Linked DNA regions of Homo sapiens. The protein of the gene in region 3 purifies or fractionates together with the protein of the main gene of each other region. This does not show direct contact. Each region holds a gene or a part of one and is shown on either strand. Other genes may lie near its edges. The genes, in order: P2RX4, HAPLN3, B3GALT5, SLC30A6, BDH1, ENTPD7 and FAIM.

What was found.
Region 1: the proteins of B3GALT5 (region 3) and P2RX4 purify together in Homo sapiens (affinity purification with mass spectrometry; one large-scale study listed by BioGRID and IntAct). This does not show direct contact.
Region 2: the proteins of B3GALT5 (region 3) and HAPLN3 purify together in Homo sapiens (affinity purification with mass spectrometry; one large-scale study listed by BioGRID and IntAct). This does not show direct contact.
Region 4: the proteins of B3GALT5 (region 3) and SLC30A6 purify together in Homo sapiens (affinity purification with mass spectrometry; one large-scale study listed by BioGRID and IntAct). This does not show direct contact.
Region 5: the proteins of B3GALT5 (region 3) and BDH1 purify together in Homo sapiens (affinity purification with mass spectrometry; one large-scale study listed by BioGRID and IntAct). This does not show direct contact.
Region 6: the proteins of B3GALT5 (region 3) and ENTPD7 purify together in Homo sapiens (affinity purification with mass spectrometry; one large-scale study listed by BioGRID and IntAct). This does not show direct contact.
Region 7: the proteins of B3GALT5 (region 3) and FAIM purify together in Homo sapiens (affinity purification with mass spectrometry; one large-scale study listed by BioGRID and IntAct). This does not show direct contact.

The regions. Positions count from the first base shown.
Region 1 is NC_000012.12:121,226,817-121,230,966, reverse strand, and holds part of P2RX4 (P2X purinoceptor 4), read right to left. Parts: intron 2,435-4,150; coding exon 2,354-2,434; coding exon of another isoform or gene 2,350-2,353; exon of another isoform or gene 2,339-2,349; intron 2,243-2,338; coding exon 2,101-2,242; intron 2,005-2,100; coding exon 1,868-2,004; intron 1-1,867. UniProt on the Homo sapiens protein: ATP-gated nonselective transmembrane cation channel permeable to potassium, sodium and calcium. CTP, but not GTP or UTP, functions as a weak affinity agonist for P2RX4.
Region 2 is NC_000015.10:88,881,679-88,885,828, reverse strand, and holds part of HAPLN3 (hyaluronan and proteoglycan link protein 3 isoform 2 precursor), read left to right. Parts: intron 1-4,103; coding exon 4,104-4,150. UniProt on the Homo sapiens protein: May function in hyaluronic acid binding.
Region 3 is NC_000021.9:39,657,795-39,661,944, reverse strand, and holds part of B3GALT5 (beta-1,3-galactosyltransferase 5), read right to left. Parts: exon of another isoform or gene 4,064-4,150; coding exon of another isoform or gene 4,052-4,063; intron 2,193-4,051; 5' UTR 2,033-2,192; intron 1,386-2,032; coding exon 453-1,385; 3' UTR 1-452. UniProt on the Homo sapiens protein: Catalyzes the transfer of Gal to GlcNAc-based acceptors with a preference for the core3 O-linked glycan GlcNAc(beta1,3)GalNAc structure. Can use glycolipid LC3Cer as an efficient acceptor.
Region 4 is NC_000002.12:32,203,540-32,207,689, forward strand, and holds part of SLC30A6 (zinc transporter 6), read left to right. Parts: exon of another isoform or gene 1-679; intron 680-1,050; coding exon 1,051-1,153; intron 1,154-3,346; coding exon 3,347-3,394; intron 3,395-4,150. UniProt on the Homo sapiens protein: Has probably no intrinsic transporter activity but together with SLC30A5 forms a functional zinc ion:proton antiporter heterodimer, mediating zinc entry into the lumen of organelles along the secretory pathway.
Region 5 is NC_000003.12:197,521,054-197,525,203, forward strand, and holds part of BDH1 (D-beta-hydroxybutyrate dehydrogenase, mitochondrial precursor), read right to left. Parts: intron 1,729-4,150; coding exon 1,587-1,728; intron 1-1,586.
Region 6 is NC_000010.11:99,696,989-99,701,138, forward strand, and holds part of ENTPD7 (ectonucleoside triphosphate diphosphohydrolase 7), read left to right. Parts: intron 1-1,545; coding exon 1,546-1,870; intron 1,871-3,984; coding exon 3,985-4,070; intron 4,071-4,150. UniProt on the Homo sapiens protein: Catalyzes the hydrolysis of nucleoside triphosphates and diphosphates in a calcium- or magnesium-dependent manner. Preferentially hydrolyzes nucleoside 5'-triphosphates, with substrate preference for UTP > GTP > CTP.
Region 7 is NC_000003.12:138,625,531-138,629,680, reverse strand, and holds part of FAIM (fas apoptotic inhibitory molecule 1), read right to left. Parts: intron 575-4,150; coding exon 525-574; intron 1-524. UniProt on the Homo sapiens protein: Plays a role as an inducible effector molecule that mediates Fas resistance produced by surface Ig engagement in B cells.

The DNA.
Region 1 (4,150 bases), on a different chromosome or scaffold from region 3:
CTATATATATAATGGCTATATATATATATACACATATATACATATACATATATGAGAGAGAGAGAGAGCGAGCACGCGAGAGAGCGCACACGCATGAGCAGGGGATGGATGGTTGGTGAAGAACCGTCAAGACATACCATCTGCTGCCCCATGTTCTCCAGGGATCCATCAGGAGCCTCGGCCCGCACCCTAGCTCCATGCTCTATCTGGCCCACAACTTCCACGCCATGGGCCAGGCCTGGGAGACACAGGCAGGGCCTGGTGCTGCCCGAGGTTGGGGGATAGGCGTCCTGAGTTCTTTCCGTTTTAGGGCTCTGACCTAAGCTTGAGGTTTCCACAAGAAGTGTGTGACAGTAGAGATGGAATAACACAAATCTAACTGCTAGAAAAGAAAAATTCAAATATCTGCTTTACTCAGTGAGCCAGAAGGTTCAAAAGGACAGCAGATCCCACAATTACAGAGGTCTTAGGATCCCGTATGGATCGGATTCCACACGTCACCACTAGGGGGAGGCAAGTGCAGCCCAAAGCACCGCTGACCGCGCCCAGGGATGGTCCTTGCAGGGCCTCTTTTTTTTCCCCCTGAGACGGAGACTTGCTTTGTCGCCCAGGCTGGAGTGCAGCAGTGCGATCTCGGCTCACTGCAACCTCTGCCTCCCTGGCTCAAGCGATTCTCCTGCCTCAGCCTCCCAAGTTGCTGGGATTACAGGCATGCGCCACCATGCCCAGCTAATTTTTGTATTTTTTTTAGTAGAGATGGGGTTTCGCCATGCTGGCCTCAGGTGATCTGCCCGCCTTGGCCTCCCAAAGTGCTAGGATTACAGGTGTGAGTCACTGCGCCCGGCCTGGAGCGCTTCCTTTTTAAGGACTGTGAAAAATGCAACAAAGGGTACGTGGAAATTTACCTGGCTATAGATTCTGATCATGAGATCATCAGCTGTAGTGGGTTGAACAGTGTGTCCCCAAAAATTCACATCTACCTGAAGCTTGGGAGTGTGACCTTATTTGGAAATGGGATATTGGCAGACGTAATTTGTTAAGATGAGGTCATACTAGAGTAGGGTGGGCCCTAAATTCAGTGACTGATATCCTTACAAGAAGAAAAGACACAGAGACACATACAAGGCAGAAGGCCTCATGACAGGAGAGGCAGAGACTGGAGTGATGCATCCACAAGCCAAGGAACACCGTGGGCTACCAGAAGCCAGGAGAGACAAGTAAGGACTCTCTCCAGAGCCTTCAGAGCGAGCACAGCCCTGCTGATGCCTGGATTTTAGGTTGTGGCCTCTAGAACTGTGAGAACTGTGAGAGAATCAAGTCCTGTAGTTGCAAGCCACTGTTTGTGGGACTCGCTTACATCTGCCCCAGGACACCGAGATGCCAGCATTTGCAGCAGGGAACCCAGCAAGGCCTTTCAGGGGCCTCAGACCTGTGTCCCCTGCACTCTGGAGATTCTGGCACAGGTTCAACCTTTGAGAAACCAATTCCTGGGCCAGGCCCCAGAGGCCTTTGGACTGGAGGATCACAAGATCATCCGCTCCTTGAGGCAGTGAATGGAGGTCATGGCTGAGGCAGGTGCTGGAAAGCTTAAGCCCCCAGCTTCTCCTGGCTGCTCTAAGAACCATCTCAACATGTTTCTTGCGGCAGGAAAGGGCAAGGAGGGGTCTCGGGGGCCGGGATGGCCCCGGAGCAGGACACCACTAAGGGCATTTTCCCAGCATGGCCTTCCCGCCGCCTTGGACGGGGGACCGGCAGCCTGCCCTTGGGGTGCTGCCTGAGTGCTGGTCTTCAGTGGGCGGCCCACTGGCACGTACGCAGCCACCAGCACCCCCTACAACATGAGCGAGGGGCCCAAGCTCACGCCCACCTGAAATTGTAGCCAGGAGATACGTTGTGCTCAACGTCCCGTGTATCGAGGCGGCGGAAGGAGTACCTGGGCAAGCAGAGGGAGGCGGCTCTGTCCAGGTTGCAGTCCCAGTTGACCTGGATGCCCATGATGCCTCCCTGGGGATGAGCAGCAGAGACACGGCAAGGCTTTCCTCAGCACCTGGCACGAGACGCCTCCAGGGCTGGGTCAGGAGAGCCAGGGCCCGCACCCACCTCCACGGCCATGTCCTGGAAACTGTGTCCTGCGTTCTCCACTATTTTGCCAAGACGGAATATGGGGCAGAAGGGATCTGTTTTAGCATCATAAATGCACGACTTGAGGTAAGTAGTGGTGATGTTGGGAAGGATATTCCTCCTAAAGTCGAGAGGAAGCAGAAAATCAGAGCGACGAAAACCTCAGAGAAGAGAGAAGAGCCAGAAGTTTCTCCAAGACCCTGGTGAACTCACACACCTGGCCACCACTTACTTGCTGAAATTAAATTTGGGATACCAGATGTTGTTCTTAACCAAAAGAGTGAAGTTTTCTGCAGCCTTTAAAAAAGCAGGTCTGAAAAACAATGATAACATTACTGTTAATAAAATACATACAAATACTCACATAACCATGTTATATATATATATATACACACATATATATATGTATTGTGTGTGTGTGTCTGTGTGTGTGTGTGTGTATATATATATATATATATATTTTTTTTTTTTTTTTTTTGAGATGGAGTCACTCTGTCACCTCGAGTGCAGGCTTGAGTGCAATGGCGCGATCTCAGCTCACTGCCACCTCAGCCTCCCGTGTAGCTGGGATTACACAGGTGTGAGCCACTATGCCTGGTTAACTTTTTTTGTATTTTTAGTAGAGACAGGGTTCCACCATGTTGGTCAGGCTGGTCTCCAACTCCTGGCCTCAAGTGATCCGCCTGCTTCAGCCTCCCAAAGTGCTGGGATTACAGGCATAAGCCATCACGCCCAGCCTATATATATTTTTGAGACAGGGTCTTGCTCTGTTGCCCAGGCTGGAGTACAGTTGCATGAACACAGCTTCTTGTAGCCTCGACCTCCCAGGCTCAGGGGGTTCTCCCACCTCAGCCTCTCAAGTAGCTGGAACTATAGGCATGCATCACCATGCCTGGCTAATGAAATTTTTTTTTTTTTTTTTTGTAGACATGAAGTCTTCCTACATTGCCCAGGCTGGTCTTGAACTCCTGACCTCAAGCAATCTTCCTACCTCCGCCTCCCTGTGCTGGACTACAGGAGTGGGCCACCATGTTCAGCCCCTATGTAATATTTTTAAAAACATATACACACATCTTACAATGTCATTTTGTCAAGAAGATGAAACACGTCTAGCATTTTCTACACCCTTCTGCATGCACACTCTTCTCTTCCAAGAGAAGACACTGAGCCGAGCCTTCCAGGTTCTTCCCCTCAAGGAAGGGCAGGCCCTCTCCCCCAAGGCGGTGAAAACTGAATTGCTAACCAGGGAGGGGATTTGTGGCCTCACTGGAAATCAGTAGGCCTGGCTTTGGGGCCGCAGGCGTTCTCCAGGGAGAGAATGAAGGCTGGGCAGATCCGGTTTTACAGGTCAAAGCAAAAGTAAATTTGCCTACAGGCTGGATCCTGACCTGTCTGAAAAGTGCACAAAGCACCCGCCAGCAGGTGCGCCGGCCTCTTCTCAGAAGTGCCACGTCAGCTCCTGGCTGACAATACAAGTTGAATCTGTCCCCAAGGGGACTCCATTTCTTTGGTGAATTTCTCCTGGAGAATCTGGCACTGTATGGCTAACCCTTCTGTGGGGGATGTTCCCCTGATCCAGGTGGGATCTTTGGAATGACAACATCAACAGTCTTCCCAGCCCTGAGACAGGAGCAAGGTCAGTGACAGGGCTGCACTCGGAGGAGAGCTGAGCCTGTCACCACTGCTGTCAGAGAAAGGCTGGGACCAAGGGGCTTCTCTCAGGTTTTTTTTTTTTTTGAGATGGAGTCTTGCTCCTGTTGCTCAGGCTGGAGTGCAATGCCGCGATCTCGGCTCACTGCAACCTCTGGGTTCAAGTGATTCTCCTGCCTCAGCCTCCCGAGTAGCTGGGGTTACAGGCGTGCACCACCACGCCTGGCTAATTTTTTCATATTTTTAGTAGAGATGGGGTTTCACCATGTTGGTCAGGCTGGTCTCAAACTCCTGACCTCAGATGATCCACCCACCTCGGTCTCCCAAAGTGCTGGGATTACAGGCATGGGCCACTGTGCCTGGACTTCTCTCAGGTCTT
Region 2 (4,150 bases), on a different chromosome or scaffold from region 3:
GATCACTTGAGGTCAGGAGTTCAAGGCCAGCCTGGCCAACATACCGAAACCCTCTACTAAAGATACAAAAAATTGGCCAGGCGCGGTGACTCACACCTGTAATCCCAGCACTTAAGGAGGCCGAGGTGGATGGATCACGAGGTCAAGAGATCAAGACCATTCTGACCAACCTGGTGAAATCCTGTCTCTACTAAAAATACAAAAGTAGCCGGGCGTGGTGGCAGGTGCCTTTAATCCCAGCTTCTCAGGAGGCTGAGGCAGGAGAATTGCTTGAACCTGGGAGGCAGAGGTTGCAGTGAGCTGAGATCATACCACTGCACTCCAGCCTGAACGACAAAGTGAGACTCCGTCTCAAAAAAAAAAAAAAAAACACAAAAAACAAAAAATTAGCCGGGTGTGGTGGCGTGCACCTGTAATCCCAGCTACTCAGGAGGCTGAGGCATGAGAATTGCTTGAACCTGGGAGGAGGAGGTTGCAGTAAGCTGAGATCACACCACTGCACTCCAGCCTGGGTGACAGAGTGAGACTCTGCCTCAAAAACAACAACAACAAACTTGTTCCACTTGTTTGTGGAAGGAACGAACCAGATGGCTGGTCTCAGTAATAGCCAGCACCTGCCATGAAGAGCGCACAGCCTGGTTCAGAGACGACACATGAGCCTGCAAGTGCAGTGCTGGGTGTTTCTCACCTTTCCCTCTGCCTTTGAGTAGATGATTGTGCCTGCAGAGGCATTTTCCCTCTTTTGATTAGTCTCCTAGGTCAGCTGTAACAAATTAACACAAACTTGGTGGCTTGAAACAACAGAAATGTATTCTCTCACTGCTTTAGGCACCAGAAATCCAAAATTAGTTTCACTGTGCAGAAATCGAGGTGCGGATAGGACTGTACCTCCTGTGGCTCTTGGGGAGAATCTGTTCTTGCCTTGCCTCTTCCGGTTCTGGTGGCTGCTGGCATTCCTTGGCTGTAGCTGCCTCACTGCAGGCTCTGCCTCCTTGGTCACGTGGTCTTCTCCTCTTTTATATGCAAATCTCCCTCTGCCTCCCTCTAAACAGGTACTTGCGCATTTGCATTTAGGGCCCACCTGGGAAATTCAGGATACCCTCCCCATCTCGACATCCTTAGTTTAACCTCATCTGCAAAGTCCATTTTGCTACATAATTAGGATTTAGGGTATTTTGGGAGGCCATTATTTAGCCCACCACACCCTTTTCCTTCAGAATTTATTTTGTTATACAAGCCCTACTTTATTTATTTATTTATTTATTGAGACAGAGTCTCGCTCTGTCACCTGGGCTGGAGTGCAGTGGCGCGATCTCGGCTCACTGCAAGCTCTGCCTCCTGGGTTCACGCCATTCTCCTGCCTCAGCCTCCCGAGTAGCTGGGACTACAGGCATCCGACACCATGCCTGGCTAATTTTTTGTATTTTTAGTGGAGATGGGGTTTCACCGTGTTAGCCAGGATGGTCTCGATCTCCTGACCGCCTGATCCGCCCGCCTTGGCCTCCCAAAGTGCTGGGATTACAGGCGTGAGCCACCGTGCCCGGCCTACAAGCACTACTTTAATGAGATTTGCGGAATTTAAAAAACTTAAACTTCCTACTCATAGTTTCACTACACTACCAGGCCAACATTTCATTTTTGTCTTTCCCTTTTGTCCCTGAATATGTAAGCAAAGTCATATATAATCCCCCCACCCAGGGGAACCACTGTTAACTTTTTAGGTATCTCTTTCTAGCCTTTTCTTTTTTTTTTTTTTGAGACAGGGTCTCACTCTGTCACACCAGTGCAGTGGTGTGATCTCGGCTCACTGCAACTTCTGCCTCCTGGGCTCAAGAGATCCTTCCACTTTAGCCTCCTGAGTTAGCTGAGACTACAGGCGTGCACCACTGTGCCCAGCTAATTTTTGTATTTTTAGTAGAGATGGGGCTTCACCGTGTTGGCCACGCTAGTCTCGAACTCGTGGCCTCAAGTGATCTGCCCGCCTTGGCCTCCCAAAGTGCTAGGATTACAGGCGTGAGCCACTGCACCTAGCTGAGCCATTCTTTTATGATTTAGAAAACTTTCTCCAACAAAAACCAGCTCATGTCATACATGTGATTTTTGTATTCTCCCTTATCACCTCATAGAATAGAACTCGTTTTCTAAGTCAATGATTGAATGTACATCTACCAGATTATTTTACATGGCTGTATAGTATTTTATCATATGGATGTACATTTTCATTTTATTCAGGTTAAAGCTTCAAAGGTAGTTTACTTAAGAGAGTTGGGAAGAACCAAGGAAGTGGCCCCTAAATGATAGCCCTGCTTCATATTTATTGGACACTTTCTGTGTGCCAGGCATCCTGCCTTACCTGATTTGAACCTTACCACAGCCCTCTGTAGGGACTGTAATTAACCCATTCTACAAATGGGGAAGCTGAGTCTTGACTTCCCTGGATTACACAGCTGGGAAAAGGTGGAACCAAGGGCAAGCCCGAATTGCCTGACTCCAAACCTCTGTACCTACTGCCTCTGCAGAGCAGGACAGCTCTAATCTGAATGAGCCTGAAAGTCCCCTGGAGGCTGGACCCCATTCCCAGAGTCTCTGAGGCACTGGGACCCCACAATGTGCATTTCTGACAAATTCCTGGTGATGCTAATGCTGCTGGCCCGAGGGCCACACTTGGAGACTTCTGCATATGGCAATCTGCTACATTAGGTATAGCTCTTTTTTAGCACGATTCCTCTACAGGGAACCTCCCTGTCTGTCTCCTGCTTACCCATGAGGCTGTCCCCTTGCCTCCACCTTTTTAATTAATTAATTTGTTTTTATTTTGTTTTTGGCAACAGAGTCTTGCTCTCTCACCCAGTTTGGAATGCAGTGGTGCGATCATGACTCACTGCAGCCTTGACTTCTGGGCTGAAACAATACTCCCACCTCAGCCTCCCGAGTAGCTGGGACCACAAGCATCTACCACCATACTCAGCTAGTTTTAAAAATTTTTTTGTAGAGACAGGGTCTCACTTTATTGCCCAGGCTGGTCTCAAACTCCTGGGCTGAAGCGATCCTCCTGTCCTGGCCTCTCAAAGTGTTGGGATTATAAGCGTGAACCACCGTGCCTGGCCCCTGTCCCCACCTTGAGTAAATCAAGCATGTCTTGAAGTCTAGACCCAAGAGAATGAATCAGTGAGGTCCCAACAGGGGCTCCCAAGTTAAAGATGAGGCAGCCTTAGCCTATGAACTTGATTCTTTTGTTGCATGTTGAGTTCTGTGTGTATTTGTAACTCTGAGCCGTGAGCGTAGTCTCCTTTAGAAGTTCTGCCCTTAGCTCAGTAGGCTGCTCCGTATTTGGGAAGAGTTATGGTGGACAGCTGGACCAGAGAGTAAAGCCAGGGCTGTGCTGTCCTCTGGCCAGTGTGGTGGGGAAGGAAACTCCGACGGATCCCTATCAGGGCCACTTGTCCTGGCCATGTACCTCATGTGGGGTGGCTCTTGTTGCCTGCTCCATTGGTTAGATTTTATGCATAGCAAACCACCCAAAACTTAGTGACTTCTTTAGGATGACAGCCATTTGTTTAGCTCATGATTCTGTGGGTCAGCATTTTGGAGTGGGCTCCATTTCTTCAGGTCTTGCGGTTGGGTCTTGCAGATGTGCCTGCCCATGGTGGGCAGGTCAGCTGGGGGCTGGTTGCTGTAGGATGGCCTCAGCTGGGGCGCCCTGTCTCTGTTCTGTGTATTCTCTCATCCTCTAGCAGGCAAGCCTGGCCATGTGCTCATGGTGGCTGGCAAAGTCCTAAAAAAAGAGTGGAAGCAGCAAGGCCCCCTGGGACCTATGCTCAGAGCAGGCATGATGGATAACAGTCACTTCCAAGGCATTCAGTTGGTCAAGCAAGTGGCAAGGCCAGCACAGATTCAAGGGGGTGGGGGAATAACTGTCATCTCTTGATGGAAGGAGATGCAAAGTCACATTGCAGAGCATGTGGATACAGGGAGGGGTGGAGCATGGTGGCCATTTTTGCAATCTGAGCCTGTAGGAGCCGTGGATGAGGGTGTGCGGTGGCCCTTGCAGGGGTACAGATGTGCTTCAGCAGGTCTCATCTGCACCCTGTCTCTCCCCCAAGACCTCCTTAATGGAGTGAAGCTGGTGGTGGAGACACCCGAGGAGACC
Region 3 (4,150 bases):
TGTCCCCTCCTAAGGGAGGCAGCACGTGGGAGTGGTTCAAGTCAGGGGCTGCCCACCAGATTCTGACAGTGCTCGATTTTCATTCCCGCTCCTATGCCTACTGGCTGTGAGCCTTGGGACAAGTTTCTGTACCTCTCGCAGCTGCTGTGTCCTTGCCTGTAAAATTAGGATGGTAACACCCATCATGTCATAGGATACTGACCCCTGAAATGCAAAAATCCAGGTGTATGTCAAACACTTAGTATGAAGAGTGTGCGTGCCCAAGAGACGGGCCTATTATTGCCTGGGGCACCAAGTGGGAACTAATCAGTGACTTCATGAACACCGACATTCTGGCGTGGATTTCAGCACTGAAGAACAGCATCCTCTGTCCCGCCCCCTCTTCCAAAATCTAGCAAAAACTATCCCCACGGGTTATCTGAAACTTGTCCGGATGTGCCTCTGGGCTCCCCTCAGACAGGCGGACAATCTTCCCCCCGGGAATTCTCTAGAGCCTGCCAGTAGTCCAAGAGAGTCCGAGGCTTGATGAAGTGGCAGGCCACGATCCTCCTGAAGAGGCATACGGAGAAGCGTAAGCCCCCTGGAAAAAAGGTCGGCTGGGAGTGGAGCTCCTCCAATCTGATGTTCAGCCTTTCGAGGCAGAGCCCCACAAACACGTCTTCCAGTTTAATGTATGGGACGCTCTTGGAGACATTGTACACCTGACTCGCCACGTCGCCAGAAAACACGTAGCCGGTGCCGGAGCAGAATGGTGGGTACCTGTCCCACGGATATTCAGATTTACTGACAAACCACTTGCTGAATGGCTGCCTGATGGGAAACTCATTGAGTTTCAAGAAGCCAGTGAAAAACCTGGTTGTTCTGTTTTTCTTCAGAAGCAGTTCAGTCAGATAGTCAACATTGATGAACATGTCTGAGTCTGTTTTCATCACAAACGCCGCCTGAGGACAAAAGCGATGGACCCATTCTATGCCCATCATGGTCTTCAGGGTCAGATTGTAATAGACGTCTAGGAAATCCTTCTGGATAATGTCCCCGTGTCGCTGGCTCTCCTGGTCCACCTCTTTCGTTTCCGCTGCACTGCTGGTGGTCCCCAGGAGGAAGAATGTCTTCAGCTGCTTTCCCTTCACCATCCTCTCTTTCCCCCACGTCTGCCGGATGGCCATGCGCTCAGCCAACTGTTTGTGGGATGAGGTCACCAGCAGGACGAGGAAGGGAGGTGTCTGCCTGCAGTCTGTATCTGGGAGCTTAAGGAAGTTCCCGTCTTTCTTGTAAACAAAGGACTGTTCTTTGAAAGGATTTAGACTGTACATGCTAAAATACAAACAAAGAGCCCCCAGAACCAGAAGGCAAATATACATCAATCTCATCTTCGGGAAAGCCATCTGAAAGGAACAAAATCCAATGATTAGACCTCAAAAGCATGAGGATGTGTCTAGTTTTATGCTAGGAGGCTGAGGTGGGAGAGGAGACCCGTGTTTTGGAAACTCTAGAACCTCGCTGCATACAGAAGTCGGGTGCTGTGTGGTTAAACAGTTAAGCACAAAGGTCTAACATCTGCCAGCATCTGTCACTTCATGGTGTAAGATAAAAAGCTCAGAGATTCTGGGCATTGGTCCAGGCTCTGCAGCCCTTAACCTACGGGAGTCTCCAATTGCCTGTCTGTAGGGATATGGCACCAGGTCCCTCACTCGGTCCTCCAGCTCTGCCCTTCTATGACTCCATGATGAAGCGCAGCAAAACAAGCTGCAGGTCTGGAAACCACGCATTGTAGATCTAAATGTATGGACCACTTGCATTCTTCTCTGATCTAATTAAGCAGCATTCCTGCTCCCAGAAAAAAGCAAGTCCAGTGTTCTGATGTGCACAAGTACCTTCAAATTCTGTCTCTGCCAGAATTATTTTTTTTTAAGTTACTTTTTACAGTCTCTGATCTGATTCTTTCCTGTTCTGCCCACCCGTCTCTGCTATCCTCGGCAAGTTCAGGATCATCCATGGTAACGTTATAACATTAAGAAAGCGTATAACTCACTTTTTGCTGGGTAAGAGGAACCTCTGGTTTGAAAGCTAAAGCCACAGTGTAAATGCCAAGAGGAAATTTGTCTCAAAGAACTGTCAGTGTAGAATGCTCCATAATTATCAGGTTCTGGGCTTGGTTTGTTTACCAAAAATGGTGATTCTGACAGGAATCACTAGGAAAAAAAAAAAAAGAGTGTCATTCAAATCACTCGTGCCTTACCAGCAGGCCTTCACAATTTACCGTGTCTGTAGCGTCACCTTCCAACCTACTTATGTGACTCTGAGCACGCATTTGAGCCCCAATCCCAGCCTCACTTTTCTCATCTGTAAAATGGGTATGATCAAGGCAAACAAAGTCCACAACAGTAACAATATGCCAATCCCCCAGAATCCTTCAAGCCTAATAAGTTAGGATAGCACCTAGCAGCTTTTTAAAGAGACATGATAAACTCATAAATTAGAGTCTCACTTCTCATCCTGATAATTTACCTTATTTACATAACAGAGTCTGTAGTTAATGCTGAGAGAATTTAACACAGAGAATAAATCCAATTCTTAACACAATAGCGGCACTTTAAAAATGTTACCCTGGGTGAGAGGACAGAGAGGACAGCAAGAAATGAAACTGAAAGAGTGAAAAGCAGAGTTGGTTTGGGCTTTTTAATTTTAATATTTCAGAGACCTGATGTCACTCTGTCTCCCAGGCTGGAGCACAGTAGCACAATCATAGCTCACTACAGCCCTGAACTCCTGGGCTCAAGCGATCCTCCTGTGACTTGGGTCACAGCTTCCCAAGTAGCTGTGACCACAGGCGCATGCCACCATACTCTTCTAACTTTGTATTTTTTGTAGAGATGGGGTTTCACTATGTTGCCCAGGCTAGTCTCAAACTCCTGGGCTCACGCAGTCCCCTGCCTTGGCCTCCCAAAACACTGGAATTACAAGGGCAAGCCACTGTGCCCAGCCAAGAGCTGGTTATTTTGATGGCCAAAAGAGCACCTGAAAATTTCATTGTCAAAATTCTGTTCTACATATATTCGCCAAAAGCAATAGGAATATAATAATGGAGCTTTCTAGAACCAGCTCGCTCTCCAGGGACTTCTTTCCTGGAGGCAAACTTAGCCAACTACCTGCTCTGCTTGGCACCCCTGGGGAGTTCCTGCCCAGCTCCTGCCCCCAGCAACTTCAGAGAAATCACAGCAGAAGGCAAGCAGGAGACCAGAACTTGTCTGAACTGGTGCTCCAGGATGCTGCAAAGTTTCTTTCTTTCTTTTCTTTCTTTCCTTCCTTCTCTCCTTCCTTCCTTTACTTTTCTTTCTCTTTCTCTCCTTCTTTCTCTCTTTCATTATTTATTTGCATGGCTAAGATATGCAGCTGATTAGGGGGGTTGGGGGACTGCTTTCTCCCCCACAATACATTTTAGAGAGAAACATAAAAACCAAGTGCAAGGGAAAGAAGATATTTTTCTACTTTGTTTCCTTGCTTGAATAATTCTGCTCCTTTTCTATGGGTTGCTTTAACAGTAAACCTTAAATTCTCATTCTCTCTGATGTGCCTCTCCTCAGGACCCTTCACAGGGCTCTAAATTCCCAGGGATGGGCGCTCACCTCATGCAGTGCATTGGCCAAACTGTTTCCCAGGAGGCAGAGCAGGTGCCAAACCCAACTGGCAGAGCAGGTGCCAAACCCAAATGACCCGGGGTCATTTGTTTTCATGGGCAGTTGAACATTTTTCCTGCCTAAAGTGGAGTTACCACCAGAAGTCACAGCTCAGAATCCTCATATATGAGACATCTGCATCTTTGGCTGAGTCTGTATTGGGCCTAAAGAGGACCTGGGGGCCAGCCTTCCACTGAAGGAGGAGGTAGGGGCACCTGCAGCACCAGCAGACAGAGCCTGGAAAGGGCAGCCTGTGTCCCCAGATCCTAGCCACCCCAGGCCAGCTGCAAAGCAGAAGCCCTCAGCACAAGCTAGCTCTGCCTTACCTGGGACAGAGCCATGAACAGGCACTATCTGTGCTACAGAAGCCCTACCTCCAAACACATCTAGACCACCAGGCTGTATGGCCTGACCAGCCAGTCAATAACGGAATGGCAGTTTCTCCAGCAGATTCTGCACTCCAGGTGTATTAG
Region 4 (4,150 bases), on a different chromosome or scaffold from region 3:
ATCACCTCTGATAGGGATTTGTGACCATGACTCTGGAAAGCCTAGAGGAAATACAGGATGTCAGCTGTGCTTGGAAAGAACTTAACAGAAAGCTGAGTAGTAATGCAGTGTCTCAGATTACCAGAATGTGCCTCCTGAAAGGAAATGTGCGTGTTTGCTTTGATGTTCCTACAACTAAGTCAGAAAGGTTACAGGCAGAGTGGCATGATTCCGACTGGATATTCTCAGTGCCAGCCAAATTACCTGAAATTGAAGAATATTATGATAGAAACACATCTTCTAATTCCAGACAGAGGAGTGGTTGGTCAAGTGGCCAGTCGGGCCGATCAGGTGGTCGATCTGGCAGCCGGTCAGTTAGACAGAGTCCACAAGGGAGTCGCTCAGGAAGTTGACAAGATGGTAGAAGATGAAGAGGGAATAGAAATCGATCAAGAAGTGGGAGCCACAAACGGAGTTTTGACTATTTGATAGTTAATCTACCAGTATGAGGTTGCCTATTTCTGCCTAATCATGTATATTATGCACCAAAAATTAGGTCATCATAGTTGAGGTATGTGTCTGCTATTTGCAAATAAATTGGTCATATTTTTTTAAAAAGTATTTCACAAGAATGATTGTAAACAGATCTACTTACCAGTTATACCTTTGAATTAAAAAACCTCTTTTTATTGTCTCTTTTTAAAAAAAAATTACTAGTTGAAGTTTTTTGTCTGTCTCAAGCAAATAAACATATTTCAGCTCTTTCTAGTTGACAGATAGTTTGACAAAAAAATGCCTGACGGGGAAATGTCCACATTTTTTTTCATCATACCTCTTCCTACTAATTAACATAATTATTAGTTATTTTTCCACTAAACTTTGAAAGGAAAGAATTCTAAAAACTGGAGTATTTTTCTTTGAAATGTTTCTTTGCAAGTAGTGGCCAATTGTGATAAAATTGTGTCCTGTTGCTCAGTCCTGTTGCTTTAGATAATTAATGTTCAGGAGATTTAATTGTAATATGCCCAGTGAGATATAAATTTAAAATTTAGAATTGTTTTTTCCTTTTAGTAATTATTTTGCCGTAGACACTGCCTCTGCTATAGCTATTGCCTTGATGACATTTGGCACTATGTATCCCATGAGTGTGTACAGTGGGAAAGTCTTACTCCAGGTAAGGTGCTTCTTCCAATGCACGTGCTTAATATTAGCCATGTTCTTCTACCAGATTAAAAAGTTGTATGTGTTGTTCTACAAGATTGTGAAATTTTTATTTTTATTTTTTAATTTTAATTTTTTTTTTTTTTTTTTTAGAGACAGGTCCTTGCTCTGTCACCTAGACTGGAGTACAGTGGTGGGATCTCGGCTCACTGCCGCCTTGACCTCCCAGGCTCAAAGGACCCTCCCACCTCAGTCTCCTGAGTAACAAACTACAGGCACACACCACCACACCCAGCTAATTTTTAAAAATATTTGTAGAGATGGGCTCTCACTATGTTGCCCAGGCTGATCTCAAACTCCTGGGCTCAAATGATCCTCTTGCTGCGGCCTCCCAAAGTGTTGGGACTATACGCGAGAGCCATCGTGCCCAGTCATAATTTTTAATTACAAAAGTTTTTTGGCCAGGAGAGGTGGCTCACGCTTGTAATCCCAGCACTTTGGGAGGCCAAGGCGGGCAGATCACAATGTCAGTAGTTCGAGACCAGCCTGGCCAACATGGTGAAACCCTGTCTCTACTAAAAAAATACAAAAATTAGCTGGGCGTGGTGGCGTGCACCTGTAATCCCAGCTACTCGGGAGACTGAGGCAGGAGAATTGCCTGAACCCGGGAGGCGGAGGTTGCAGTGAGCTGACATTGTACCACTGCATCCAGCCTGGGTGACAGAGCAAGACTCCATCTCAAAAAAACAAAACAACATTTTTTTTAATGCCCTCCCTTTAACAGTACAGATTGTGAAATTTTTAGTTACTGGAAGCCCCTGCTAGAAATGAAGTCAAACAATAATCTCTGACATTCATATAGTCAGAACCTGATGAAAGTCCATTAGCAAGTAAAATAGTCACAAATCTTCCTATATTTATATTGTGACAAAATCACAAATTTAAAGCTATTATTATTTTTCAAGTGAAAAGAATGTTACTTCTTTTTTTTTTTTTTTTTTTTTTGAGACAGAGTCTCTCTCTCTTGACCAGGCTGGAGTGCAGTGGCGCTACACTCAGGTCACTGCAACCTTTGCTTCCTGGGTTCAAGCGATTCTCCTACCTCAGCATCCCGAGTAGCTGGGACTACAGCCATGTGCCACCACGCCTGGCTAATTTTTGTATTTTTAGTAGAGCTGGGGTTTCACTACATTGACCAGGATGGTCTCAAATTCCTGACCTCAGGTGAGCCACCCGCCTTGAACCTCCTAAAGTGCTGGGATTACAGGCGTGAGCCACTGCACCCGGCCTGAAATTTTTTTTAGATATTTATTTTCCCTCAGTAAATGTGCTTTGGCTTTTGTGTAATCTGCTTATGACTATTTTATTATTTCCTGCCACTGAATCAGTGAGACTTTAAAATTTCAAACTTAAAATCTTAAATGACACATTGCTACTTACTGAAATGATAGGAACACCCTGAATATGAATAGAAAGGCAGTTTCCGGCCGGGCGCGGTGGCTCATGCCTGTAATCCCAGCACTTTGGGAGGCCGAGGTGGTTAGATGACGAGGTCAGGAGATCAAGACCATCCTGGCTAACACGGTGAAACCCCATCTCTACTAAAAATGCAAAAAATTAGCCGGGCATGGTGGCGAGTGCCTGTAGTCCCAGCTACTCAGGAGGCTGAGGCAGGGGAGTGGCTTGAACCCGGGAGGCGGAGCTTGCAGTGAGCCAAGATTGCGCCACTGCATTCCAGCCTGGGCGACAGAGCGAGATTCCAAAAAAAAAAAAGGCAGTTTCCCAGGGCCGGATGTGCGTGTAAGCACTGTGGTTCCTTCTGTCTTACCCTATGCCTTTTCCAAGACTTAGGGCAGTAGTTCCATCTCCAGAAAAAATAAAAATAAGATAATAGTTGCATAGTGCTATGCCCTATACAAAATACGACCTTTGTAACCATTTCCCAAAGATTTTTTGTTGGTTGGTTGGTTGTTTAAGTGTTATTTATCTTTTTATCTTATCTTCAAGATAAAAAAACAGGTGTGGGCCAGTTGATGATGTTGTTCCACTAGTGGGGCCAGTTGAAACCTCTCTTCTCTAAATCATGATAGGACAGCTGTCAAAGCAAAGGCTGGCTTAAAATCCTTTTGGGGAGGGGGTTCAGGACCATTGTTGGCAAACTTTTTTCCTTCCCCCATTATTCATATTTTATTGTATTTTTCCCCAGACAACACCACCCCATGTTATTGGTCAGTTGGACAAACTCATCAGAGAGGTAAGATGGAATAGTAAATAAAATCATTTTATTTTATATCAGGGAATTGAAAAGGTGGATACTTTTAATACTTTATTCAACTCTACCTAGAATTTTATTTGAGGGAAGTTCATGTTCTTCACAATAACATACTAGGAGCCATAATATAGTGGCAAACGTGGAAAAATATGAGGAATTGTTCAATTTGGAAATCAAATTCACTTGAAGTGAATGTGGAAGGTAATGGCCTAATGACCACCCTATTATAAATGCTATGATTTTTATTTATTTTATTTAGTTATTTAGTTATTTTTTTTTTGAGACAGTCTTGCTCTGTTGCCAGGCTGTAGTGCAGTGGCGCAATCTCAGCTCACTGCAACCTCCACCTCCCAGGCTCAAGCAATTCTCCTTCCTCGGCCTCCTGAGTAGGTGAGACTACAGGCGCGTGCCACCATGCCCAGCTAACTTTTTCTTTTTTTTTTGAGACAGAGTCTTGCTCTGTCGCCCAGGCTGGAGTGCAATGGTGCCGTCTTGGCTCACTGCAACCTCCGTCTCCCAGGTTCAAGTGATTCTCCTGCCTCAGCCTCCTGAGTAGCCGGGACTACAGATGCAAGCCACCATACCCAGCTAATTTTTGTATTTTTAGTGGAGACAGGGTTTCGCTGTGTTGGCCAGGCTGGTCTTGAACTCCTGACCTTGTGATCCACCCGCCTCGGCCTCCCAAAGTGCTGGGATTACAGGCATGTCCACAGCGCCTGGCCCGCCCAACTAACTTCT
Region 5 (4,150 bases), on a different chromosome or scaffold from region 3:
CTCAGCAGAGCTCCCCGCATGGGATCTGGTCACTCCTGCCTTTTCCGCCTCCTTCCCCAGCCACTGAAGTAGCTGCTCCTGAGAGCTGCCCCACCCCATTCTGAGGGAAAGCAGAGGCCTGAATGACGCACACCCTTTCTGCCTGGGCTGTCAGGGAGCTCAAAGGTAAACTTCATAGATTCGCTTCTCCAGATGCTGCTGGGCGGCCCGGCTCCAGGGAGCTCCATCCCCCACTGCTGTATTCTACATGAATGGCACCCCGAGGTTGCAGACAGAGCTCCTCCCACAAGGCCCTCCACTGGCTGAACTGGAAGGATATTTTAGTCCTTATGCTACTGGAACTTTCTGTAGCTTTTGACCCTGTTGGCTACTGGTACTGCCCTCTCCTCCAAACTTTCTGTTGTTTAGCCTCTGGGGAACTGTATCCAACCTCTCTGACAGCTGCCTCTCCCCCTCCTCTGATCCCCGAACACTCACATTCCCAGGGGTCCCTCTGTGCATCTCCCCGACTCCCAGTGTCACCTGCCGTGGGCACCTGCTCTTCTAGCCTGGACATTCCCTCAGGGTGGGCGCTTCAGTGTCTCCCTATCTCCCCACCTGCTCCTGCAGTGCGGGGCACCAGGTGTCCAGGACAGAGACTTCGCGCCTCACCTCATCCCCACATCCAAGTCACCAAGTCCAGGCAGCTTCGCCTTCTCAACACTCCTCGCACCTGACCCTTCCTGTTTCCCAACACCTACCACCCTAGTTCCGGAGTCCAGAACCCATGTTTAACTCCCGCTTTGAATCCACCTTCACATTGCCACTGCCATCCTCAGAGGGAGATTCACAAGTCTCACAATGACCAGGCCATTCCCTCAGGATGACCCCTTCAGTGGCTCCCCAGTGCCATTGGGAGACCAGCCATGTTCCCTCGCCTGGGATCCAAGACCTCCCTCCCCAACCTCCTTTGCTGCCACCCCCTCTGCGTGACCTGACCCATGACTCATATTGAGGTGCCGGCTAATCCCACCACTTGACCAACAGCCCCCGCTACCCTCCCCGTGCTCCTCGAAGCTGTGGTTCCTGCTCTCCCCTCCTCTTGGAACAACCATATCTGCTCTCTGCCACAATCTGCCTTAACTGGCCTATTTCCACTGCGCCCCCATGGCTGGACTGACCCCTCCTTCCTGTGCTGCTCTGCCTCTCTCAATGCACGGCTCCCTGATTTTGAACTCAGTCCTCCGGCTGAACTATGAGGTCCTGGGGACAGAATGTGCCTTGACCATCTTTGTGTCCCTGGCACCCAACCCAGCTCCTGGGCCAGAGGGGGCATCAATGGGCATTGGCTGAACTGACCTGAATCAGTGCGTAGCCACCTAGCACTCCGTGAACTCTGAAATCACCTCCTGACTGTATTTTTCCATTGCCCTATTGCACGTGTATGTTTAGTGTAATCCTCTTCCTCCTACTGTGCAGGAGGAAGAGCCTAAACAATAAGGAAGGGAGTGTGGTGGCAGGATGCCAGCCAGTGGAAGGTGGTGTTCGGCAAGTGCCCCTTGGAATGGCCCCATACACAACCCCTGCCGTCCGAAGGGGCGCCCTACCTTTCTCAGGGTCCTTCAGGCTCGAGCGGACAATCTCCACCACTTTCTCCACCTCTTCGCTGCTGCAGACATTGAGCTGGACGGTTCTCAATCGGTCACTGTTTAGGCTGTCCAGCTCCTTGACCCCATCATGGCCTTTGTCCTGGGGAGGAGAGAAGAGCTGCTTCTACCTCCTTCCTTCCCACCCTGAGGCAGACCCTGAGGACTCCTGTCAAGGCAGGAGCTGGCCTCAAGTCCCAGCCAAAGCCTCAGGCATACTGGCAACTGCCCATGGGCCTGGCCCACCAGCATGCGGTTCTTTTTAATCCTGAGCACTGATGACCTATCAAGCATCAAGCTATGTGCCACAGACACAACCATGAATAGGATGAAGAGCCGGCCCCCAAGGCCTCAAGACAGGATTCCTTCTCCAAGCAGGGGTTGCAAACTTATGTGGGGCAGGCGGGGGCCCTGGGGAGTACAGGACATGTCAGGAATTACCACGTGGGGATGGAAACCCAGGGTTGCCAGATGCTTACATTTTTAAGCTAGTAATTGGGAAATCTCTTCATTCTTTTAAGTGTTGGCAACTTACACACATTTAAAAAAAAAAACAAAAAAACACTGTGAAGGCCAAAGCACGTCCACAGGCCACATAGGACCAGCAGGCTGCCAGTTTGCCACCTCTGTTCTAAGCCAAGGGCCCATCAACTCCAAATTGGTAAGAGGCCAGAGCCAGCCTCTAATCCCAGCTCAGTCACTGAGTAGGCTTTGTGCACTCAGGGGTGTCCCTGAACAGGGGTCCATTTTTTCTGGCTGTAAAACAGGAACATCACCACCTGTCCTGACCTGCTCAGATTAATGGAGTAAGGAAATGGATTTGTAAGAAGCCTGTTAAAGAGTCTAAAGCACCACACAAATTCAGGTACTGCTAAACAGGAGAAAGGCGTCACTCGCTCGGCAAACATTTCTTGGGCCCCTATCGTGTTCCGGCACTGTGCTAGGAACTGGAGGTCAAGATCAATCATTCAGCCCCTGTTCCCAGAGTCGTGTTCTAGGGAAGGAGACAGGTGAGCACGTAAGCGACACAGTGACTGTGTGCTGTATGGAACCTGGCGGGAGGTGGGAGGGGCACAGGAGGGACGGGCAGGGGAGACCTTCCAAAGGCAGTGACAGCTGAGGACATTCACAAGAGGGGGCCGATGGGGACGGGGCACTGTGGGAAGAGATAAGAGGACGCCACCAGAAGCCATTGGTTGCAGGCAGTGCAGACGCATAAGGAGGTGGTGGATGCAGGGCTGGAGAGGAGGGCAGGGGTCTGCTTGTGGGCACTGCCGAGCTGCTGGGGGGCTTTCCTCTAAGTAGACAGCATTTCCCGAGTGTCCACTGTCCTGAGCACTGTGCTAAGTGCTGATGTGCTTTGTCACGTGCACCCTCGTGTCACCAGGCAGGCTGCATTGTCACATTTCATCCTATTCTATGAAACATGGTTTCTTTCACAATAGGGATGAGCTACACTCGATGTGAAAATTAAACATAGTTGGTCATAAATGACTTAATTGGCAGCAATTTTCCTGAATGGTGCATGGCATAGTGACACCTCTTGTAAGAGGACAGGACTAGCAGCCAAGAGTAAAGGGGTAGAGAAATGCCCACTCGCCAGCCAAGGGCTTGCCCATGGCACACACAGCTGCTACTGAAGCAAACATCCCAGGCGCGGGCAAGGGTGGAAAGCCCAGGACGGTCAGCACTTGTCAGGGGTGGAAAGTCCTCCGCTGGTTAGGCTGAGCCTTCTGAATGCTTTCAACCAGAAGAACCCCAACCCCGGGAATGGAGAAATCACATCATGCAATTTCAGAGGGCACAGGAGGAAATGGTGAAGGGACTGCCCAATGGGGCCGGAGGTGCTGGACGTAGTCACCCCGGAGAGAAGACTTGAGTGGAACATGACTGAGGGAGCCAGCTTGTTCCATGCAGCCACAGAGAACAGAGCCAGGACCAAGAAGTCCAGCTCAGCTCAAAATGAGGCGTGATCTTCACAGTCTGGAGATGGCATGAGCTGCCTGGAGGTGTTGAGGCAATGAGTTGGGGTGGGGGGTTGTTTGGAGGTAGGAGGGATGTTTGGGGGTTGGGGGGATGCTTGAGGATGGGGTGTGGGAAAGGTGGTACAGAGACAATCCCGGCATTGGACAGGAGGTCGGGCTGATCTCCCCTACCTAACACCGCTTCCGTTCCTGGACTGTCGTCTTCACCGCCTGGTTTTCCATGGAAAGGAAGCCTCCCCAGTGGCCCTTTGAAAAGGCACTGTGGCGTGGCCCGCTAAGTCTCTGCAGAGGCACCAGGGATGCCTTCGGACACAGCAGCCAGGCCGGAGGCTCGATGGTCTAAAGTTTGGCTCTGAAATCCCCTAGGTGCGCCGACCTTCCCAAACAAGACGCAGGCATGAGATGCACGGGACAGATGGGCCTGGAGCTCAGGCTGTCATTCCCACAGAGGACTCCACCAAGAAAGAACTAATGCATCTTCAGGTCTAGGGTGTGATGACGTGGTGCCTGCAGACCCCTCTCTTCCACAGGCGGCACACA
Region 6 (4,150 bases), on a different chromosome or scaffold from region 3:
ACAACACACTTACCTACGTATACTTAACCATTTAGCTACGAACACTAGCTTGAAGAAGTACTGGTATACCCCGTTTGTAATAATTTATCCACAGCAATCAATTATCTTATATTTACGGCATGTTGAAGAAAATATTGTCCCATAAGTCTATTTTGTTTTTGTAAGTCTTAGTCTCTAGGAGTTCAAGGTGCTTTGGGAGAATCCTGGTGCCCTGGATGATTGACTAATGCATTAAAATCAAGTGGTGTGTTTGTATTCTGAAAGTACTCCTAAATCTATACAAACATTGCTTGGGTTGAGGTGCTCAGATGTCTCCTGCAGGCACCATGATGTTTGAAGATCATTTGTTTTGAAAGTTTCACACCAGTTTTGGTTTTCCTTCTTCATTAGCTGCTGTGCTTCCTTTTCCATTTTCTTCTTTTGTTCTACTCCTTTCTTTTCTGTCTGCTGTTTTCTGCTGCCTCCAAACTACTTCTTGCCAGACTGCATCTTCTTCCCATGCGTTGGTATTTTCTTGCCAAGTAGCTAAGTCACCTACATCAGGTGACTGATGAGTAAAAGGCATATCTTGTGTAGCTGCCAGTCTATTAACCTATTTCCTGAGATGGCAAAATGATCATTGTCTCTTCTCAATAACAATTTTCTGAGTTTTCCTTACAGTTGGTGTCACATCCTTAAAATAGTCGGTTCCAGTTGTTGTAAAGTGTTCTGTTGTACTGCCTCATTCCATTCTCACCCTCGGTCTTTACACCTGTGGGCGCATCCTCATTCTAAGAAGTCCACTCTTCAACATCTGTCTGTTTAGGAACTGATGAATAATTAACTGCAATTGGCAAAGTTACTTGGACCCCAACTTAATTTCTGTCCTTGGACAGATCTTCATACTCATCATTTTGAGGAATGAGAATATGGTTGCTAGGCAAGTATAAACTCAAAATAACTGGACCTGTGTTACGGCCATGGTGGGAATCAAAGCTTTCCAGTCTTCTCCCCACTCAGAGGCTCCAGGCTCTGCAGGTGGCTTCCTGGAGCTGGTGCTGTGCCTGTTCTGTTCCAGCACTGCTCATTCAGAGGCAGGCATGGGCTCCATCACCATTGCCAGCCATTGCACATGGGCCACTGCCGTGGTCTGCTCTTCAGGAATCTCTCCCCACAGTCCTTCCCACCTCACCCCCTACCAGTTGTATTTTTAAACATTAGAACCACACTCCGCACGATAAGGTCCTTGCACTTTTAGGAGGTACGTGGGAATGAAGACCAGATGGAGAACAGCAGATTCACATCTCCAATTTCACTACAGACTAGGAAATACACATGTTGACTAAAATGTCGAACAGAATTGATCACCATATTCCTCTCTTTTTTTTCTAAATTTAACTTGCTGAAGTTAAATGTTTATGTGATGAAATTGCACTCCATCCTCGTTTCTAGAGATATCATGAAAACCAGTAGTAAGATATTTCTGATGCACATTGTGTTTCTTAGACTAGGTTGAATACAGGCATGACGTGTTTGTTTGTTTGTTTGTTTTTGTCATTGTGGCAGATTGCTTGGTCAGAAGACAGGTCTGAGTCCCGACAATCCATTTCTGGATCCCTGCCTGCCAGTGGGACTCACAGATGTGGTGGAGAGGAACAGCCAAGTCTTACATGTCCGAGGAAGAGGAGACTGGGTGTCTTGTGGGGCAATGCTGAGCCCCCTGCTGGCTCGCTCCAACACCAGCCAGGCCTCACTCAATGGCATATATCAATCGCCTATTGACTTCAACAACAGCGAGTTCTACGGCTTCTCTGAGTTTTTTTATTGTACAGAGGATGTGTTGCGCATTGGTGGCCGCTACCATGGGCCAACATTTGCCAAGGCTGCTCAGGTAAATTATTAATGATAAACATGGCTTATGCTGGCAGCAGCCATTTATTGAATGCCTCACTCTGTGCCAGGTGCTGTGCAAAGGGCTTTGCATACAGAATCTCACTTGTTCTTTGCAGGAGCCCTTTGAACACTCATTTTACAGATGAGGAAGTGGACAGAGAACTTAAGGATCTAGCTATGCTGTACTGCCTTCTAATTAACTAAATTTATTTTCCATGGATGTCATACCACCCAAATTATTACCCAGGCATAAAATTTTTGTGTTGGCTAATGGTTTTTCTTCCAACTTTCCAATAGTCTTGTTTAATGTTTATGCCCAAGAAATGTCACCTCCAGTATTTTTCCTCTTGCTAGCTATTTTCTGTTGTAATGTGCTTTTGGAGATGATATCACCCAGAGGGGCAAGCCCATCTTTCTTTTGGGTTGAGGTATTAAGAGGCAGAGTGGTATGGGGTCCCTGGGAATATTAGATGTTGTAAAAAGCAATGATGGTGGAAGTTTGTTTAGATTTAAAATAGAGGAGTAAAAATTCACTCTGAGCATATATAGGACTTAAGCATCATATAAGTTTAAATCATTGGTACCTGGACAGATGAAAGTTTAGCCAGCTTTCTATCATTTTCTGCTTTATTTAGGGCCATCTCTTTGAATTGTTGCGTGTCTCTATCTTTTTCATCAGAGAAACGAATGGGAGAATCTGTCCTCATATTTCTTTTTTTCTTGAGATGGGGTCTCGCTCTGTAGCCCAGGCTGGAGTGCATTGGCATGATCTCAGCTCACTGCAACCTCTGCCTTCCGGGTTCAAGTGATTCTCCTGCCTCAGCCTCCCGAGTAGCTGGGATTACAGATGCCCACCACCATGCCTGGCTAATTTTTATTATTTTTAATAGAGATGGGGTTTTGCCATGTTGGCCAGGCTGGTTTGGAACTCCTGGCCTCAGGTGATCTGCCCGCCTTGGCCCCCCAAAGTGCTGAGATTACAGGCGTGAGTCACCGTACCCAGCCTCTCCTCATATTTCCCTCCCTCCCTCCCTTCCCTCCTTCTTCCCTGCCTACCTTTCTCTTTCTTTCTTACAATTCTCTAGGGTTCTCTTAGTGTAAGGCTTCCAGCAAAATAATATCTGCAGTATCTGTACTGTTCTGTTCCCAAAAGACAGTCCTTAAGAAATACTGTGGGACACCTGGTTTGTATTTGCTCCTTTCTCTCCAGCCTCCAGGACGACCTTCACGCTCCCTGTTTTTCTGGAGCCCAGAGCTCCCTAACTATCCATGGCCTGACTCTTTCTCTTATCTCAAAACTTCTTCAAATTCTATTCCCTTGAACACCAAAAGGCTCAAGTTATTGGGCTTAACATATTATCTTTTCCAGGTAAAAGCGATTTTTTTCCCTTACCTTTTTAACTTTGACTCAAACGTTATCTTCCCAGAGCCACCTTCTGGGACCACTCTATCCAAAATGACAACGCTCCCCATATTACCTGTTGCCCTTTCCTGCTTTATTTTTCCCTGAGCATTTATGTTATCCAACGTACCGTGTGTGTGTGTGTGTGTGTATGTGTGTGTGTGTGTGTGTGTGTGTGTGTGTTTATTGTCTGTCTCCTACCACTAGAATGTAAGCTTCCTGAGGACAGGAATTTTTGTCTGTTTTATTTACTGCATGATTCCCTGGCATCTAGAACAGCACCTGGCACATAGCAGACATACAAACCAAAAGGAATGATTATTTTGGTGAGAATTACAACACCGAGGGAGGCCAATGACAGGTTTCTAACCATCCTCTTCCATCTGCTCTCCCTGCTCATGTCAGTCCTATGTGGAGTAGAATGAAACTATCTTTGTCTTTTGACGTTGCTATTTGTTAGTCCTAACCTCAGCCCCTCTGAAGCCTAAGAGGCTCAGAAGCCACATCAAGCTGGCTTGGTGCTAGACATGGGATGACGGGAATAAACAGGGGTATGACGCAGTGTTTAGTGAATGAACACACCATTTCTGTTTTCCTTTGTCAGCTGGTAGCCCACAAGTAACTTTAGAAATGGAACAGCTGTGACTGTGGGGAAGGTAGAGAGTTTGCCTCCAAATTCATGTTGCACTATTTCTCTGTGGTTGATCCAGGATTACTGTGGCATGGCTTGGTCGGTACTAACTCAGAGATTCAAGAATGGCCTCTTTTCATCACATGCAGATGAGCATCGACTCAAGTAAGTTACTTCCCTTTCCTCCTTAGATGTGGACTTAAAATCTAGATGGCAGATTATAATGGAGAGTGAGCAATAATGCA
Region 7 (4,150 bases), on a different chromosome or scaffold from region 3:
AAATCTCGCTTTCAGAAAAGAACCATCTGCTTTGAGTGTATGGTGTAAAGCATTCCTAAAGTGTGATCTGTGGACCAGTAGCATTAGCAGCACCTAGGGAAATGTTAGAATTAGCATTTTAACAAGATTCCAGGCAATTTCTGTGCATGCAAGTTTGAGAAGCAGTGATAACGCACCACTTCAAATGGATCAACACAAGAGGACACCAACCTCTGGGGATATAATTTTTTAACTAGGGGCTCTTTTTAGGTATTTTACTTGCTATGCTGGAGCCTGGTCCAGGACAGGAAAGGGAGAGTATGAAGCTAGTGCCAGCTAAGAACATGAGTTGTTTCCAAACTCACGGTACCAGGCACCATCTGGCAAAGGTTTTCAGAATCTGAAGTCAGGAGTACTTAATCCCTTTTTTGTTTTTATCAAGAGGGCCTTGATTCATTATAAGATCTCTATAATTAGGAAATGCAGCAACAATTCAATGGTAACTGAGACACATGGCACTTAGAGTCATCAAATAGTCAACTTACCGCTGTCTCCAATTTTTTACCATTGCACCATACGTCCATAGCATCTTTTTCTGTAAAGGTAACATAAAAACTTTAAGTTATAATTCTGTGATTTAAAGATAAAGTTAACTTTTCCTATTTATTACTTTAGGAAAGGATTGATATACCAGATCTCTAAAACTCCATTAATATTCCAAAACCCAACACTTTTTCATGGCTTTCATGGCTTGCAGACTCTCCTAAAATTTGAAGAAGCTGTGTTTGTTCTTTGTTCATAAAACTATAATGAAACAAAACAACCTTTTAAGAGAAAGTTATGGTCTTAATACAAATTGATGAAGCCTTATGAAACAAAATGAATCCAAAAGGACAATCTTTAAAGAAGGATGCATACAGGCCGGGCGCGGTGGCTCACGCCTGTAATCCCAGCACTTTGGGAGACTGAGGCAGGCGGATCACAAGGTCAGGAGATCGAGACCATCCTGGCTAATACGGTGAAACCCCATCTCTACTAAAAATACAATAATTAGCCGGGCATGGTGGTGGGTGCCTGTAGTCCCAGCTACTTGGGAGGCTGAGGCAGGAGAATGGCGTGAACCTGGGAGGTGGAGCTTGCAGTGAGCCGAGACCGCACCACTGCACTCTAGCCTGGGCAACAGAGAAAGACTCCATCTCAAAAATAAATAAATAAATAAATAAATAAATAAATAAAAAAGAAGGATGCATACAGATGAATGTGAGGAGGGACCCTTCCATACAAAATGCCCTTCAATATTGACCAGATGACTCCCCTGCCTCCCACACTCACCCAACTGGGTGATGGCACAAAAGACCACTGAAAGCAGCTGCCACGGGATTTATATAGGATAGACAGCATGTCCGCTTTAGAAATCTAGTCCAGCTTCTTACTAGGTAGTACAATAATGTCTATTCCTTTTCATAATGGTTTCAGTTTAGAGAAAAATTATTGGATTACAAGTAAAAAATAGGTATAGCTGGTGGACTGCACACTAAGGAACAATATGGAACAAAATGCTGCCCCGACACACTTAAATGGATCAGTTAACTTGCCATAGCTCATCTCAGGGTGGAGGAGTCCCCAGAGCCCCTTGCAAATGTTAGTGTCCTCAGGAGTAGCAGGAGAGAAGACTACACTAATCAAGAAGCCAGAAGTTGAGCTTTGGGTATTACAGTGAAGAAGAGAAGGAAGTATGGCCTGTATGTGCACAAGGAGTCTGGGGGTCAGGTTTGAGGCACCAGTCCAGGGTCTTACTGCCTGGCCATCTGCTCCAGGAGCACAGTCTAAAGGGGGTTCTTTCTCTCCCCATACCTTGAGATGGGAGCCTCACTTAGAGATGGGAGAAAAGCCTTTGAGGTGCGCTAGATGGAAAAAGAGAAAGCCAGAGGGGTCCAGGAGATATGGGCAGGGGTCACCTCAGTGGCAGCCTTCATAGAAAGCTGCTATAGTCACAGGTGCAGGTAAACTCAACTTGTCCCAAGACATGATCAGTGCACACAGTGCTATGATAAACCACGATGATGGTAGAAACTGGTATTTTACTTGCTATGCTTACTGAACATGTACGTGTACTCAGAGTTTCTACAATAGCGTATTAGCATGCCTCTGAAGAACACTACTAATCCAGAAGCCCTAAAAGAAAATGTATTAAATTTGACTACATAAAAGTACAAAAAAAGGCCAGGCACGGTGGCTCATGCCTGTAATCCCAGCACTTTGGGAAGCTGAGGCAGGCAAATCACAAGGTCAGGAGTTCAAGACCAGTCTGGCCAACATGGTGAAACCCCGTCTCTACTAAAAATACAAAAAATTAGCTGGACGTAGTGGCGGGCGCCTGTAATCCCAGCTACTCAGGAGGCTGAGGCAGGAGAATTGCTTGAACCCAGGAGGCAGAGGTTGCAGTGAGCCAAAATTGCACCACTGCACTCCAGCCTGGGCGACAGAGTGAGATCCTGTCTTGGGAAAAAAAAAAAAAAGTAAAAAAGCCACAGCACAATTGAAGAAAAATGCACACACATTAGCAAAGTCATGTAATAAATGACAAACTCTGAAAAAAATATGTCAAACTCACAGCATGAACAAAGGACTAAACTTACTAATGTGAAGACTATGAGAAATCAAGGAGAAAAAGACCAACAACCAAAAGAAAATGGGGCAAAGGGCATGAACAGGCATCATGAGAAAGGAAATACAAAAGAAACTTAAAACTAAGATGCTCAACCTCACTTATGAAAAAGACAAAAACAACCCTGAAATACCATTGCTTCACCTAGCAGAATGCCAAAAAATCCAAAAGTTTGGCTACATGTTCTGCTGGAGAACCTGGGGAAAATAGCTAACGGGGGTACAAAATGGTAAAAGTACCATGGAAGGCAAATGGGCAAAATCTATTAAGATGACAAATACAATTAGTCTTTGACCCAGAAGAATAGAAGTCCTACTTTCCTACTTCCAGAAATGTGTACTAATATAATATGTGTCCTGTTCCAAGAGGCATGCAAACAAAGCTATTCATGCAGCATTGCTTCTAACAGCAAAAGATTAGAAACAGCTCAAGTGTTCATCAGTTGGGAATGAGCTAAATACACCATTTACTATTGAAATTTACTCTGCAGCTATAAAAAATATGAAAAAGTTCTTTAGGTTCTGATATAAAAGGATCTTCGGAATATAATAAGTGAATAAAGCAAGATGCTTTTATGTGGTAAGAGAGAATATGTGTACTCGCTTGAATCTGAATAAAGAAACACTAGAGTGACACTAAAAATGGTTATCTTGATGGGGGAACATGGCAGATGGGAACAGGGATGGAAGCAAGACTTTTTAATGTGTCTTTTAATAGCATTTTGATTTCTGAATCTTGAGTATGTAACCTATTCAAAGTGGTATGTTAATAAAAGGACATATCTAGCTGATAAAATTTCAAATCTATTATGACTCAGTGCTGGATTTAGTGACTCATGGGAGTTGCTGCTGCATGTTCATCTTGGAGCATCTCCTCTTTGCCTGCGGATTCCCTCAGCCGCATGAACAATAGCTAGGGACTTCCCAGGTGAGTCCTGAGCAGGTTATGTTCTGTAAATGCTATCAAAGAGAAACTTTTCAGAACAGAAAGAGAATTTCCTTCCAGCGTGAAGTTTCATATGTACTTTCCTCCTGCCAGCTTTATTTTCCTCCCATGGTATTCAGTGGTGTGGAGACTACAAGAGCTGAGAATGCTAACCAACCCTGTTTTCATTGCCCTTATATGCCTCACATTTTTTAGGTGGTGAAAAAAAATGCACATGATCTTTGAGGTCAGCTCTCAGCATCACTCTTTACTAGCAGTACCCTTTGGCAAGTCACCACCACTCTGAGCTTCCATTTCCTCAGGGGCAAATGAAGATGATACCACCTTTCCCATAGGCTGTTATAAGGGTTAGAAATAATTATATAAAGTGCCTAGTATAGTATCTGGCACATAATATGACCTTAGTAAATCATAATGTTTTGTTATTCAAAGCTTTTTTGTGGCCTTGCTCTAATTTCTCAATATAAAATTTAGCAAGTCATATAATATTGTTATTTGAAACTTGCCACATAACATACAAGAGTGAATTTTACCAGGAGACTCTAGATAAGCCCATTC